Regions from separate parts of the Homo sapiens genome. Here region 2 is linked to region 1. The links come from fine-mapping of genetic effects on gene expression. Tissue or cell type: whole blood. Region 1 holds a variant in brackets; the other region holds the start of a gene. All regions are shown on one strand. Distances are from middle to middle.

Region 1 (8,107 bases):
AGCACCATGCATTTTTGTACTGCAGTTACATCTATAACCATAAAACAACCTAGAATTAAACCCACACTCATGAAACATCAGAAGTGACGTTTTAATAACTGACTTCTGTTAGCCATCAAGTTTCAAGATCTTTAGCAACTCATTCTAAGGAAAACTACTTGAAAAAAATGAAGGATCACTTAACTATACTTAGAATTCAGAGTGAGTGCAACTATATTGTCTATTAAAAATCACTAAGTGTTCCAAAGAAAGAGTTGAGAAAATGAAGTACAAACTCTCTTTCTACTTATTCACTAAGTATTTCATATTCAGCTATTCATTCTTGAGTCAAAGTAACTTGAGTCAAAGTAACTGACTTGACTAAATTCAATACACTTAGAATTAAGAACAGTTTACAGTTAGATGTGTGGCTAGGCCTGCCATGGTAAAATGAAATGGCAGTTATTAGAATTTTCAGAAGAAAAGATCAGGTAATTTTTCAGGGATGTAAGTGAAATCTGTCAAAATGGCAGTGAGCTCAGAGGAATGTTACTGCACTTGAGAACTACTTTTGGAATGACTCATTAATAATTTAGTTAGACTGTCAACGATGCTCTCCAATTACTCAAATACTACTAGAAAACATTTCATTAGGAGATTTAAATAAACTCTTCCTGCCTCATGCTCATTACTCCCCATGTTTGCCCAAAAGAAATCAGGCCCAAGTTAAAAGCTGCCCCTCCAGAAACATTTCCTTGGTTTCCCTTCCAGTGAGAGGTGGCATCTCCTTCTCCCAAACTCCTGTGGCATGAGGCACATATCTCATTTACTTAATTAGACTGCAAGTGCTTGGAAGGCAGGCTCCACATTCAACTGAGCCTGGCATTTGCACTCTCTAACTTCCCACCACATAGAGCTCCTAGCACAATACTCTGAAAAGAGTACTCACTCAGCAAGTGTTAGTGAATGAGTGAGGGGATAAATGCAGGCTTGAGGGGTTCCGTCTGGTGTTTCTGGCATATCCCAAAGCCCAGTTATTTGTTAAAAATTTTATGTGAACCCTCCAAACACATTAGGTTGATATCGAAGTTTCACAGAGTCATCTCATGGTGATTCTTGGTAATGAAGTTCACTTGGGTCAACAATAATCTAGAATGTGTATCTACATCTCTTTCAATGTGCTCCACTTGAAAAATATTAACCAAGTATTTCTTTCTCTTTTAAAAGCTAACTCATTTCATTTAACAGCATCTATAACTGTCAGAACTTTGGCAGACTTTGTGAAAAGTATCACTTTAACTGTCTGAATTAAAAATTAATCACAAAAGTCTTCCTTTGTTTTGTTTTTACTACTTAAACTCCCTATTGATAAAGAAAAAGTCCGTTTTTTTTTTGTTGTTGTTGTTTCTTGAGACAGGATCTCATTCTGTCACCCAGGCTGAAGTGCAATAACACAGTCACATCCCAGGAGCCTCCAGCTCGTGGGCTCAAGTAATCCTCCCACCTCAGCCTCCCGGGTAGCTGGGACTACAGGCGTGCGCCACTACACCCAGCTAATTTTTAAAATTTTTAGTAGCTACTAGGTCTCTCTACTTTGCCCAGGCTGGTCTGGAACTTCTGAGCTCAAGAGAATCTTCTGCCTTGGTCTCCCAAAGTGCTGGGATTATAGGTGTGAGCCACTGCACCTGGCCTTGATGTTTTTTTGTTTGCTTATTTTTAAGATCGTTGGAGTCTTTTCCCCATAATACAAAAAAAATGCAGTTATTGCATTTGCTAGGAGAGAAAATTCCTGTACTTTAAAATTATATTTTACAATGACTGCTTCCAACCTCCACCACTCCTCCCACCTAATACCATTGGGGCTAGAAGTGGGGATGATCCTCTTGATCATTTTTGCCTCATTTTACATGATAAATTATCAAACTTTTGCATTTTTTTAAAAAAGGCAGTTCCAAAGACTCAACACAAAGTTACCTAAGGAATTTCCTTCTCTGGATCTGCTTGTCCAGGAGTTGAAATGTTCATTAAGTTCATCAGGCAGGCAGTTCAGGAACTCTGGATGAAAGTCAGCTCAAACCCAAGGAGACTGCCAACTTCCCTTTCTTGAAAACCCTCCTGCATACAAAGTCTCATTCCTCTCAACAGTTTGCTCATTTTTGTCTTCTGGAAAGTAAGTTCATTTGTTCATGCTACGTTAGTGGAAGTAAACAACCCCTACTGAGCCCCCAGCTTCACTGCTGGCTTATAATGCACTATTCCCCAAAGTGGTGGTTCTTATTTCTGAAGACGGGCTTCCTCACCCATCTTGTCCCATCAGATAACTTAGAGTTTGGTGCAAGCCTTGCAAATCATGTAGTAACAGCCCCTCATTGTAGCAGCTAGAATACGGAGGCCGAGAAAGATCCATCGATGTGCCCCTTGCACGACACTGCTTACTAGTAGCCAAGTGCAGCCTAGAACGCAGGCCTCCTGGCCACGAGTTCTGTGTTCTTTCTTACCTAGCCTGGTGCTTACAGCTCTCCTAGGAGTAAAGTGGCAAGCCCCAATAGTGTTGCTGAGTGCCAGGCATGAAGCCAGGCAAGAATTAGGTCCTCCACACACTTGCTACTCAAAGTGCGTGCCACGGACCATCAGCATCTGCCCCATCTGGAAACAAGTTAGAAATGTAGAGTCCCAGGCCTCCCCTGAGACCTGCTATATCAGACTCTGCTCTTTAACCATATCCCCAGGAGACTCACAAGCACATTAAAGTTTGAGAAGTGTTGCTCCACAGCAGGGAGAAAAAAAAAAAAAGATACACCTTCACTTTTTGAGTTAAGCTCAGGCCAAGTCCTGAGCTCATGTCACCGCCTATGGCAGATCACACTGAAGGATGTGCCAGTGATCTGACCCAAATGGACTTGTCTCCTTTAAACACTAAGGCCACTCGGATAATCTGCAGAATAGAATCCCTGGAGCCCAGTGGATGCCTTATAGAATCCATACAACTCATTTGTCTGTTTTGTTTCCTTGCTGAAATTCTGATTTACTTACTGACTACTGAGGGGTAAAATGGGGGAAAGGTTGAGTAATAAAAGTACTTCTTTATGGAAGATCAAAGATATCCTCCCCCACTTTCTTTTCCTAAAGTGGTTCTCCACAAGAATTGTGGGTAAAGGAACTCAGCACGTGCTTCATGCCAGGATTAAGAATGCAGGTACGGGAGACAGCCTTCCTGGGAGCAAGGCAGAACTCTGCTTGCTGCCATCCGTGTGACCTTGACAACTCAACATTTGTGTCTCAGTTTTCTCACCTTTAAAATGGGAACAAAGATGACACTTATTTCATAGCCATATGATACAGATGAAATGATAATGATCAAGCCTCACATACAGTGAGTGCTCACTAAATATAAGCTACTGTCATTATACATATCCTATGTGTCAGTGTCACTCAAAACCACTGTGGCCCCCAATCTTCTCATGATTGACCCAGATAATGATCAACAGCCAATCAACCTAAAGGAACCAATAATGGACTGGGCGTGGTGGCTCACACCTCTAATCCCAGCACTTTGAGAGGCCTATGTGGGAAACTCTCTTGAGCCCAGAAGTTCCAGACCAGTCTAGGCAACATGGCGAAACCCGGTCTCTACCCAAAATAAAAAAATTAGCCAGGCATGGTGGCGTGCACCTGTAGTCCCAGTTACCTGGGAGGCTGAGGTGGGAGGATGGCTTAAGCCTGAGAGGCAAAGGTTGCAGTGAGCTGAGATCATGCCACTGTGCTCCAGCCTGGGTGACAGAGTGAGACCCCATCTCAAGGAAATAAAAAAGAAAAGAAAAGAAACCAATATGCAGCCAGGCTCAGTGGCTCACACCCATAATCCCAGTGGTTTGGGAGGCCAAGGTGGGAGGATCGCTTGAGGCCAGGATTTCAAGATCAGCCTAGGCAACATAGCGAGACCTTGTTTCTACAGAAAAAAAAAAGAGAGAGAGAGAGAAAGACAAACTAATACACATAAAAGGCAGACACTGAGAAAAGTCTTGCCCTACCAAAACATGTGTGAATTCTGGGTTCGAGCAAAAACATGCACCACCTTTCACTTTGAATTCTAATGTGTGTTGACGTAATGTGTGTTGATGTAGAGTAAGAGCCCCAGAGCTTGATCAACCATGAAGAAATAAAGGAAAGGAAAGGAAAGAGGAGTCAGTCTTAGACACGCAACCTCATGCCTCACAGCTGTCCCTTATGAGCACACCAGCCAAATGCTTTGTCTACCTGCAAAGTGACTTTAAAAGGAGAGAACAAGGAGGAGCTGCTCTGTACTCCCTTTTTAAAATGTGGCACATGCTGTCATTCCTTCTATGATAGTTGGCCAAAAGACAAATCTGATTTCCTTTCCCAGACTTCATTTTAATTTTTATTTTTATGAAAGCAGGAAAAACATACTGCTCTCTCCATCCCATCCTCACTGTTTTTTTTTTTTAAAAAAATTAATATTGTTCCTTTTGAAAGACTAACCCCACTTCTCTTTTCTTAATTAGGCTCAACTGAAATATAGGCATAAGCATTCAACTGGGCAAGCCAAACTGAAAAACATCCCCAAGCCCTGAAAATCTAAATCAAGACCAAACCAATTATAGCATTTTATTTAGGTGGTGTTTATTTTTTGTATTTTTTTAACTGTCAAGTGATTGACAGAATTTATGGTAGGCGCAAAATGTTAAAGTATTTCTAGACTTTGCGGGAAGACATTAAGTTTGTCTATAGCCTCTAAACAAAATTATTTGTTTTCCAGTCATGCCTTTCAGTTTAAAAGTATTGCACTTTTACTAGCCACATCATTCTGGGCATATGCTTCTTCTGAGGAGACATTTTTCTAGCTGAGTTTAATCCAGTGAGTTAAAAGAGGGAAAGAATGTAAAATGGAACTCTCTACTTGCAGTTGGACATGCATTTGTTTTTCATCGCAGGATGCTAGGAAAGAAACCTCTCTGGTTGTCTAACT[G/T]TTTGCCTCACCTGTCTGAGGGCTGAGGCCCTGAGGACAGCATGCAAATTTCAACCCCCAACCCCATCCTCTCACTTCCCCTCCTCTATTGAGCATAACTTAGCCGCAACAGGATGCTACCCATTCACCCGTGGAGGCCTTACCTGTCGGTTTTCTTGATCAGGATGGCTCTAAAGATGTGCTCCAGGGGCGTCTTCTCCCGCTCATGGGTGGGCTGCACGAAGGGGTGCAGGGCCGCCAGCGAGAAGCCCTGCTGGTACAGCTCCAGGAGCTGGGCGGGCAGGTCACGCAGGGAGGCCAGCCTCACTGCTGAGGACCCAGGGAGCTCCGCTGGAGTGGAGAGAGGAGAGGCTCATCAAAGACCCATCACAACGCCCACTCAGCCCTGCCCAAACCCCTCTTCCCTTGCCCTCGGGGAGGATCCTCTAGGTCACTGCTAAAATGAGTTTGTCCCAGTTTTTACTGTCTTCAAACAGACTTTATAAGCAGCCTGTCGTTTTCCAAATCACCCAAAGGCATTAATAATTGGATGTCGGCCAGGCGTGATGGCTCAGGCCTATAATCCCAGCACTCTGAGAGGCCGAGGCAGATGGATCGCTTGAGCCGAGAAGTTTGAGACCAGCCTGGGCAACATAGTAAAACTCGGTCTCTCTTAAACAAACAAACAAACAAACAAACAAACAAACAAAAACAAAAAAACCCCCTCAAAATTAGCCAGTGCTTGTGGTCCTGGCTACTCAGGAGGCTGAGGTGGGAAGATCGCTTGAGCTGGAAATGGGGAGGTTTGCAGTGAGCCATGATAGGGCCACTGCACTCTAGCCTGGGCAACAGAGCAAGCCACTGTCTCAAAAATGAAATAAAATAAAATAATAATGGACTGTCTTAGATCTAGAGTCGTCTTATCAGTGATCACAATGAAAAAGTCATTTCCACCCTCTAAAAAAAAACACACAGAAATAAAGAAAGAAAGGAAGAAGGGAAGGGAAAAGAAGAAAAATACATTGAGCAAATATAAAAATACTAGGTGGCAAAAAGCAGCATAAACAAAGTCAAAAGACAAACTGGAACAAAATTTCTGTGACCCTTAAGACAAAGGGCTAATTTCCTTAAATTTGCAAAACACTCCCCACCCCAAAATAATTTTTAAACGGGAAAAATATATGAATAGGCAATTGCCTTAAAAGTGTAAAAGGCTAACCAATATTTGAAAACACACTTTAATTCAGCATTAGAATTACACAAATAAAAACCAGGAATATTTTCACCTATTGAATTATTTTAAAATTTGGATTTTTAATTTATTTATTTTTGAGAAGGGCAAACAACGTTCAAAAGTCAAAAGGTACAAATGTGTATTCAGTGAAAAGTCTACATCCTAGCCCTATCCTCTACCTCCTACATTTATTTCCTTAGAGGAAATCAGTATTATCTTTTTGTGTGTATATGCATTAACAATCAAAGAATTCATACAAAAGTGAACAGGTCTATATATTTCCCTCCTCTTCTACACAAATGTCAGCATAACATTACACACCTAGCTTTTTAGAATCAATTTTTATCAATTAACAGTATACTTTTCGGCCAGGGGCAGTGGCTCACGCCTGTTATCCCCGCACTTTGGGAGGCCAAGGTAGGCGGATCACTTGAGGTCAGGAGTTTGAGACCAGCCTGGCCAACATGATGAAACCCCATCTCTGCTAAAAATATAAAAAATTAGTCCGGTGTGGTGGTGCATGCCTGTAATCCCAGCTACTCGGGAGGCTGAGGCGGAAGAATCTCTTGAACCTGGGAGGCGAAGGTTGCAGTGAGCCGAGATTGCGCCACTGCACTCCAGCCTGGGCAACAAGAGCTAAACTCCGTCTCAAAAAGCAAAAAAACAAAACAAAACAGTATACTTTTCTTAAGAGACCATTTCATAGCAGTACACAGAGTGCTTTCTCATTCTTTTCTACAGATCCATTGTGTGATATACCATGGAGTATGCAAACTTTTGCTCTTACAAGTAATCTTTTAGTGAAAAATCTCATTCCTACATGATTTTGCATGTGTGCGCTTATAGTACATATACAAAATAAATTCCTAGATGTGGAATTGCTGGGTTAAAAATATATGCATTGTGTGCCTGTATCAAAACATCTCATGTACCCTATAAATATATACACCTACTATGTACCCACAAAAAGTAAATAAATAAAAAATCAGAGATGTAAATATATATATATATATATATATATATATCACACACATATGTATGTGTGCATTGTAATTTTTTCAGCTAGTGCTATTTCCCCCATAGAGTATTATGGATTTATCTGCCATCAGTGATGTATAAAGTTATTTCTTTTCCCATACTCTGACAATTCTCAGTGGAAAAAAAAAGATCCCTGTGACATGGTAACTTATATTTATCTTATTATGTAATTTGTATTTTTTCTTATTAAACATTTCATATTTAAATGCTGTGTCTCCTTGTCTGTGAACTGTCTGTCCATTATCTTTGCCTCGTGTCCTATTTAGTCATTGGGCTTTTTTTCTATTGGTTTGTAAGAACTCTTTACATATTAGGAAATTTAGTTTTTGATGTATCTGCCCCCAATTTGTTGCTTGCCTTTTGACTTTGCATATAGTGGGTTTTGCCATGAAAAAAAAAATTTTTTTTTTTTTTTTAAGACAAAGTCTCTCTCTGTTGCCCAGGCTGGAGTGCGGTGGTGCTATCCCCGCTCACTGCAAACTCTACCTCCTGGGTTCAAGTGATTCCATGAAAAACTTTTTAAATGAAGCTGAATTTACCAATCTTGCTTTCAATGGCTTCTGAGTTTTGTGTCATAGCAGAAAGACCTGGGATTATAAAACAATTCTCTTGTGAATTCCCATAATACATATTTCATTTTTTGCATATAAATCTTTTATCGATTTGGAATTTATCCCATGTAAAGTGTGCAATATGAATTGAACACCCCCCCACCACAGGGGTTTATCCATTTTTCCTCATTGATTTGAGATGCCATATATCATATGCCACTTATCATTTATTATATTCCCAAATATGAGTTTATGACTGTGATCCATTAATCTATTTGTATAAAACACTACTTCAAACAATTTTAATTTCATATTATGTTTTAATATCTGGTTAAACTA
Region 2 (8,107 bases), 80 kb after region 1:
AACTTTCAGCAATGATGAAACTACTATCTGTGCTATCCAATTCAGTAGCCACTAACCACACGTGGCTCTGGGCCACTTGAAATGCGGTGAGTGAGACGGAAGGACTGAATTTTAAATTTTCTTTTCTTTTAATTCATTACATTTAAATGTAAATAGCCACATGTAACTAGTGGCTACTGTATTGAACAGTTCAGCTGGCAACGTCTTTCTGTTCCTTCAATAAAATTGTAATCCTAATCAACCAATAATATTTTAAATTATCATCAAAATTAGTATAAGCCCCTGGCTGTGCCAAACTCAGTAAGCTTAAGACAAAATGAAAACAAACAAACAACAACAAAAAAAAACTAAAGAAAATGATTGCAGTGTATCATTTCCTGTAACGCTGTTCTGATTATCTAATTTACATTTCTATTATAATATGGCTTTGTGTATTTGGAAATCCGTGATTGTAGACAGATTTTGCCTTCAAAAAACCAGAATGTCACAGTCTCTTCCCTTAAGGTCTTAGAAAAATGAAAACGTGAACTTAGGGAAAGTTAACCTTGCAAGCTTCAATTTCCTCAGGGCTGAAGTGAAGATAATATAAGTACTCGCCTCTCATGAGGATTAAATTCAGATAATGCGTGCAAAATGTACAACAGTGCCTGGCAAAGGGTAAGCACTCAGCAAGTGGCAGCTATAATTATTTGTATTTTATTAACAATATTAAAATCAGTAATAAAGAGAACAGTGTTAATACAATGAAAGTTTACACTGAACAAAATTTTCCTAGGCCCAAACCCTTTGAATGTGTTTTCCAAGCCATGGTAAAGTGCCCTCGAGTAAAATACATCCTGGGGCCCTGACATCTTGACACCCACTGTCAACCTCCAGAGAGGCGATCACCCAGATGGGTATCACGAGTCACGAAATCACTCAGCCAATGTTTACTGTGTCCCTACCCTCTGGCAGGCACTGCGCTAGGCTTTTAAGGAGGAGGGAACAGTCCCCAAACACAGTGCAATGTCTCAAGACTGAGCTGTCTGCCATCTGACTCCTGCAAAGCTTGGTCAGCCCTGGGACACCTTGATGGGATGCAAAACATGCATCCTGGGGTCCCACTCAGACAGAAAAGTTCACTTCCCGTTTCCTAGATCAGCCAAGGCAAGCTTTGGCTGTTGGCACCACAGAGAGGGACTAAGTTATTAGGGGACCCGAGGGGCACAGGCCCATTTTCCCAGTCAGGACAATAAGAGGGGTGTTGACAGGCCATGTTTCTCACTGAGAGGCCAGATCACTTTCACAAGAGAGTCATTCTCTGAGTCTTAACAAAGCCAAATCTGACCTGCCCCTCAAAATAAACACAACCCCTTTCAGTAGCCGGCTGACCAAGCCGGTGAAATCCAAGGGGACTCTCCACCAAGTTAATATCAACCCTACCAATAGACCAGAAATCCCCCGGGAGTTTCTAGGCAGAAGCTTAGTAAAATTCTGTGGGGCTTGGGGTTATTTTTCTTTTTATAGAAAGCACTCAATCAATCTTCTTTCACAACCAAGGGTACATTCCCCTATGGAATTCCCTTCTCTGAAAATCTCTAAAAATAAAATATTCATCTGATCGTCTGCAATGATTTAAGTTTAAACCCATTTTCAGGCAGAGTCAGGGACTTCCTATGGCCCCTCCACCTATAAAAACATGTTCCCCACTGCCTCAGATTCCCTCTGGCCCCAGAAGAACACTAGTCAAACCATGCTCTTGACTTTAGGATAGGAAAGACAGGGCTGTAGTATCTGGAATCTCATACTTGTATTCTTTGCTGGTGAGACTGTAAAATGGTATAACCATGTTGGGAAAAGGTCTGGCAGTTTCTTTTCAGGTTTCCATATATCTCCTTTTTGACCCAGCAATTTACTACTAGGTGTTTACCCATGAGAAATGAGAACACATGTCCCTACAGAGACTTGTACACAAATGTTCACGGCAGCTTTGTTCACAATAACCAAAGAAAGAAAGAAAGAAACTAGAAGAAAGAAACTAAAATAATCCATGTATCCATTAACAGAATATACAAACAAACTGTGGAGTAAGACATACTCCGGAACATAAGTCAGCAATAAAAAAAGACCAAATCATGGATACGACATGGATGAATCTCAAAAATATGGTGAGCTTTACACAATATTGCAGAATTCCATTTACATGAAGTTCAAGAACAAGCCAAACTCACCTATGATGAGATACAGGGCAGTGGTTGCCACTGAGAGGGTGAGGGCAGAGAATGACTGAGAATGAGGATGAAGGCACCTGCTGGGGTGACAGTAATATTCTCTGTCTTGATAAGGACTAGGGTTACACAGGTGCATGCATCTGTCAAAACATTATGCAAATGGTACTTTCCATCTTTGCACATTTCACTATATGTATATAAATTTTATCTTAAGGAAACCATAAGCACATATTGAAGTCAAAATAATAAAATGTGTACTAAAATGTTTAGGAATGACCTGTACCAACATCTGTAATTTACTTTAAAGTGCATAAAACCATCAGCTGGACTTATGGATGGACACAGGGATGGCTGGATGGTTGGGGGAGGTGTGTAGTTAAGCAAAGATGGCAAAATGTGAATTAGACTCTAGGTGTGTATATTTAGGGGGTCACTGTTCTTGCAACTTTTCTATATCTTAAAAAATGGGATGGGGATAGAGTCACAGTGTCCTCTCCTTAGTCCACCAAGTTAGAAATTTGGCAAAGCACCATGCCCCACCAAGCCATGGGACCACATAGTTTCAATTCTGCTGAAAAGAGAAGACTGGAAGAACATAAGTAGCTTTACAGGAACTCACATCACTCATGCCAAAGATTTTCTGCTTGTTTCCCTACAGACAAAGCAATTATTTGAATGTAAGCCAAAAATTCCTGCTCAAGAGGGAGAAAAAGAACTCACTGACTTGTATTCCCAATTTATTATCTTTCAATTCCTGTACCAAATCTACTAGCTAACTGCACAACACTCCACTTCCATTTGCCCCATGTCCATACAGCCAAAAAGCAAACAAAGAAAAACCAACCCAGTGACTTGATATACAAATGCAGCCAGAGGATGACGTGCCAGCTCTGGGGCTTTGAATCACTCAGGCGGGCCAGAAACCCCACTGAAGGCAAAAGAGGATGCAGAGCTCAGTCTGAGGTTAGAGTGATTTCACTGAGGTTAGCACACACGCACCAAAGAGTCCCAAACAGCTTGCTTCGTAACCCCTCTCTGGGGTTTGGTGACATCTGGGGTCACTTGAACTTCGTTGGGATTCAGCTGTTCAGAGATACAAATTAGGAATCCCGGCAGCAGAGAGGCCCTACCCACAGGCCCAGAGGTCGCTCACATTACACCCGGCTTCCTTCCTGGCAAGGCCTTAACTTATCCTGAGATGACACACGATGGCAGGGGTTGGAAGATGCCTAGTCTAGTTGAGCGCCCAGCTCCTGAAACAGCTGTACCGACTACAAGGGTTCCAGCACATGAGTTGCTGGAAACTGGGGTGACCACTGACAGAGATTGAGCCAGACTTTTTTTTTAAAAAAGTACTTCTTGTTTGTTTGTTTTAAGCCCCCGAAGAAACTCACTGACACCACCCAGCGTCCCTAGGGATCACCCATAACCACACAGGGCAGCTGAGGGCAAGCACAGAGTCACAGACAGACAGCAGGGAGCGTGCCTGGTTCTACAACCTTGGCCTCCACGCGGTTCTTGCTGCCAAAGGCAGCGACACCGGAGGTGAAGGGCACCAGCCCTGGCCTAGGACTGGGGTGCGCGTGCCTGACAACGGGGCTTCCCGAAATACACAACCACCTCCTCCTCGCCCAGACCCATATCCATCCTGGCGTCCCTTGAGTCTAGAGAAGTGGGTTAAGACAAGGGAAGAAAATCCCTTACAGAAGAGGAGATCCCCGTTTTCAGTGCTGGGGACTCTCGGCACCCGCGTCCCTGTGCTTCTGGTGGTTCCGGCGCTTCCTCGGAGCGCGCGGCATGTCTGCTCCTACACGTCCAGCACCTCTGTCCCCAGAGCAAACCCACCTCCCAGGGCACACGCAGAGGGGCAGTCAGGCACCGCCTCCACCCTGCCCCACCCAGGCCGCGCGCACCCCGGAAACCTGGACTCCGCGACCAGCTCCCTCCTGTTCTTTTCCGAGGACCCCAGCGGCAGTGTGTCCTGGACCCACCTGTAGCCTCCAAGCTCCCCCACCTCTGCGTCCTTCCTAGGCGCTTCTGAGCCTGCAGAGCCTACGACCCCCAACAGGCTGCTCCGAAGTGCCTCTCCCTACATCGCTCCAGGAATGACTCCCCTACACCCGTTCCCCGCAAAAAAAAGTTGGCCCAAGATCCAGGCGTCCCAAGGATCAGCCCAGGTCCCCATCCGACGCGGGCCAGGGGGTGCTGCTCTGGCAGCTCCGGAGCCCCGGCAAAGAGCAACCTGCAGGGAGGCGCCACGCGCGGTTCCCACTACCCGCCAGAGACCCGGTCCATGGGGCCAAACGGAGGGGCCTGTGCCGGTCGACACCCCAAGCCCTGTCGCGCCCCCCCCGCCGCCTACCGTATGGGACCGGCGGAGGAGAAGGCGCGGTCGCGGGCTCCCTGAGGCAGCGTGTTCCGTCCCGGGAGGAAAGTTTGTGCCATACAGAGGAGGCGGCGCGGGGAGGACTTGGGCGCCGGTGGGTGGAGGCGTGGGCGGTGGCGCCGCGTGGTCGTGTGTCTGTCCCTCCGGCGATCGGTGCGTCTGTCCCTCGCCGGAGCCCGCGGCCGCCGCGCTCTCGCTCGCTGCGCCCAGCGCCCGGCGCGCTCCGGCTCCAGCCCCGACGCGCCCCCGCCGCCGCCGCCGCGCGTCCGCCGGCTACACTTCCTCTTCCTCTGAACTCATGTGCAAAATATGCTACGCTGCATCTTCAGGGAAAGCCTCGCGGCCCCTGACAGCAGCCGCTGGAGCGGTGGGCCCGCCCAGCTCTCCCCGCGCCCCCTCGGAGTTCCGCCCGGTCACCTCCACGCGGCCGAGCTGCAAGCGACCCTGGCAGCCTCAGAACCCAGGGGTCAGGGGCTCATCGATCCTCCCTCCCAGCCCCTCCTAATCAAGGTTGTGTGCTGTCAGGAAGAGCGCCTGGGAGACAAGGATCCTTCAAGATTTGAGCCAGGATGCTGAAAGGGCGACTGCCATCAAGGTGCTGATGGCTGGGGGTGGGGTTGGGGCCGACTTGAGAGAGGACCATTTCTCGACCCCATTCCACAGGTGGGAGCATCCCTAAACATCTCAGGTGCTGCTGAAATTCTCTCTTGCGAGTTAGTGCTTCAGGGAAGGGTAATGCCACTGTCTCCGTTGCCATCCCTTGGTCTACCTACTTAAGATGTCCAGAGGTTTGAGAAGATCTGGAGAATCACCTTGCGTGGCAACTTGAGGCACCCAGGGAGAAAATTATATAAAGAGTGAAGCACTAGTAAACCAGGCTGCATTAGTAAAGTGAAGATGTGAGGCAAGGAGCCATTAGAAAATATTTTCTTCGTAAAACTAAACCAAGCAGAATTACAGTGTAGGGGTTAAGAGGGGGAACTTTAAAGTCAAATAATCAGGGTTGGATTCCTGGCTTTAGTACTTACTGGCTGTGTGACTTTGGGTAAGTGACTTAACTGCTCTGCGCCTATTTGTCACATGGCACTTCTTCGTGGGTTATTATATGTAAAGTGTTTAGCAACCACTCTATAACTTAGCTATTATCATTATTTTAAGGGGGCTAGAACAAGAAGGGTGAGATAATTTAATTAATTATCTCCATTTTCTAATTGGGCAAAGAAGACCCTGTGTGGGCAAAGTTAAGCACTGGAGCACACAGGGTGGAGGGCTGGTTTAGGGGCCCAGCAGTGTTTCGATGAGGTCCTTCTGGCACTAATAACACTCCTCCAGCAAGTAAGGAAGCACTATTTTGTTTTCAGGGACTCTTCCTGTTACCACAGCTTCTCAGAGATTTTCTTCCTTATTTTCTCTTTCCATAGCCTTTCTAGTTCTGTTTTGCTCCCCCTCCCTCACCACTGTTTTGTTTTTATTTGTTTTTCTCCTTTCCCTTTCCACCCCACCTTTTCCTGGTGTCACACTCACCACCACTATCCCCAGTGTCCCCCATTTCCCCCCTACACTTGAGCTTGCCACATGAAAGAAAATAAGACCAGGTGACCACGTAAGTCCAGGTTCAGACAGTAGTGCGCAGGGACATTTGCTCAGGGGCATCACCAGAGGTTGTGAACACCCATTTATGAAGCCAAAGGGAGGGGTCTTCATGCTATCTATCTGCCCGAGGCCTTGAATTGCTGCAAGTCAGGGTCCATCCAAAATCTTTCTGATCCTTTGCTGGTCACTAGGCCACAGAAAGAAAATAAAATTGATAGGTGTTAACCGGTAGGCATTTAAAAGAAGATAAAGGAAAAAGGAGGGTGGGGGTGGGGGAATGCAGCATAACCTAGTTGCAGTGTGCTTGATTTCTTTTAAGCAAATCATTTTCACTCTATAAAACTTTTGCACACCGTTGTGTTTTTTGTGCTTTTTTTTTTTAAGACACCAGTGCTTGAGGTTAATATGCTATTCTGATTGCTTCCATTTTCTTCCACTCAATATTTTCCCGAGTGCTAATAATCATGGGCAAATGTCTTAAATGACTTTTTTCCCTGCTTGGATCTGCATTTTTGAGGGTTTTCTAGAACTCCTGATCTTCTTGATATTCTGATGCTTCCTACTGGCACATAGTAGGTGTTCAGTAAATATGTGTGGAATGAGTGGATGAGCCAATAGCATGCAGATCTTTCAAGGCTCTTCTTAACCTGCATTCAGCAATTATCCAGGGTGTTCCAATTCTCTTTCACCTGGAATATTTAATGAGGAGCCAAATGTTGGATTCACTTGTGTTCTGTAGAGAGCTGCCTGGATTTTCCACTTGACTGCTATGGACTGGCCAGCCATGGGAGAGACCCTGGGCAGCTGGGTCTCACTTCTAACTGACCTTGCCTACCCAGCCCCAACCCCAAAGATGCTGGGACTGTATCCTAGTGGGTTACCTTGGCAACCTCACAATGTCATCTGTTAGAATGTCCTAGGGCGGCAGCTTTTAATTCTATCACAGCGGTCTCATCGGGGGTCATGTAATAGTGCTGTTTTTTCTCTGCTCACACTTCCTCCCCCTGTGATTTAACACTAAGTACTCGGGGAGGAGCTGAACACGGGAAAAACCAAGCTATTACTGCATGACAGGTCACAGATGGCCCCAGAACTGGGGTCCCGAGTGTTCACAGTCAATAAGACGCAGGTCCCAAGCTAATGGGGAAGCTGGATCTCCTCACACCCCCTGTGGAAAGAAGAGGAGTTAAGCCAGCCTAGGCAAGTGTAAGAAGCTGCTGTGGCCAGACTGCACGATTCTTGTAAAAGCTCAGTTAAAGGAACCCCCCGCTGGAATAATTCTTTCTTGGCCTCAGCAGCACCACCCCACTCTGGAGATGATTAAGGCCATGGGTACCAGCAGCCGGAGCAATTTCGCTGCATCCTAACTATGCTGAGGCTTGGAGGGAAGGAGAATCCCAGCTAACCTATTCTGCTCACCTTCTTCCCACCAGACCCCATCCCCACAATTTCACTTCACTTAGGTCCACCCTGCTCCTAACTTAGCCCAAAATAATTCAATTCCCCCTCTCTGCAGAGAGTAATCACAGTTCATAGCAGAAATGGATCAAACAAAAGCTTTGGAACCTGAAGAGCTATTGTCCTAATTGTTTATGTACAGGACCACGAAACCCAGACCTTACACTCGCCAGCTGAACAGCAGAGTTTCAGGGCTGGTGGGAGACAGAACTAGACTTATCTATGCCCTGGAGGTGCAATAATTATTCATCTTTATCATCACAGTTAATATTTTAATGGGTTTGCAGCCACAGTGAGCTCACAGTTTGGCCAGCTGCTCTGTACTAAACAGTTATAGGAAGCTGGCCCTGCATCCGGTGACAATCGTGCCTGTAAGGAGCCACGGTGGCAGGGGCCTGAGCTCTGTGCCCCAAGCCAGTGGTTTTGGAGGAGGCCCCTGCCCTTTGTTCATGGTGACAGG

The links. PIP is the estimated chance that this variant, and not a neighbour inherited with it, causes the effect.
Region 2: RFTN1 starts here. The variant in region 1 is fine-mapped to the expression of RFTN1 in whole blood (TOPMed, PIP above 0.99).

Annotation. Positions count from the first base shown.
Region 1 is chr3:16,428,742-16,436,848 of GRCh38, forward strand. RFTN1 (raftlin, lipid raft linker 1) reads right to left here. Exons shown (of 10, transcript NM_015150.2): 3 at 5,110-5,296. Among named protein-coding and RNA genes, the nearest start is that of RFTN1, 81 kb to the right of the region's middle. RefSeq lists a silencer at 4,984-5,113. The variant G/T (reference allele first, on the strand shown) is at 4,967.
Region 2 is chr3:16,508,870-16,516,976 of GRCh38, forward strand. It overlaps RFTN1 (raftlin, lipid raft linker 1), which reads right to left and starts at 4,830. Exons shown (of 10, transcript NM_015150.2): 1 at 4,573-4,830. RefSeq lists enhancers at 1,382-1,541, 3,270-3,679, 4,230-4,309, 7,616-8,107 and silencers at 4,600-4,959, 4,990-5,059, 6,213-6,388, 6,996-7,045.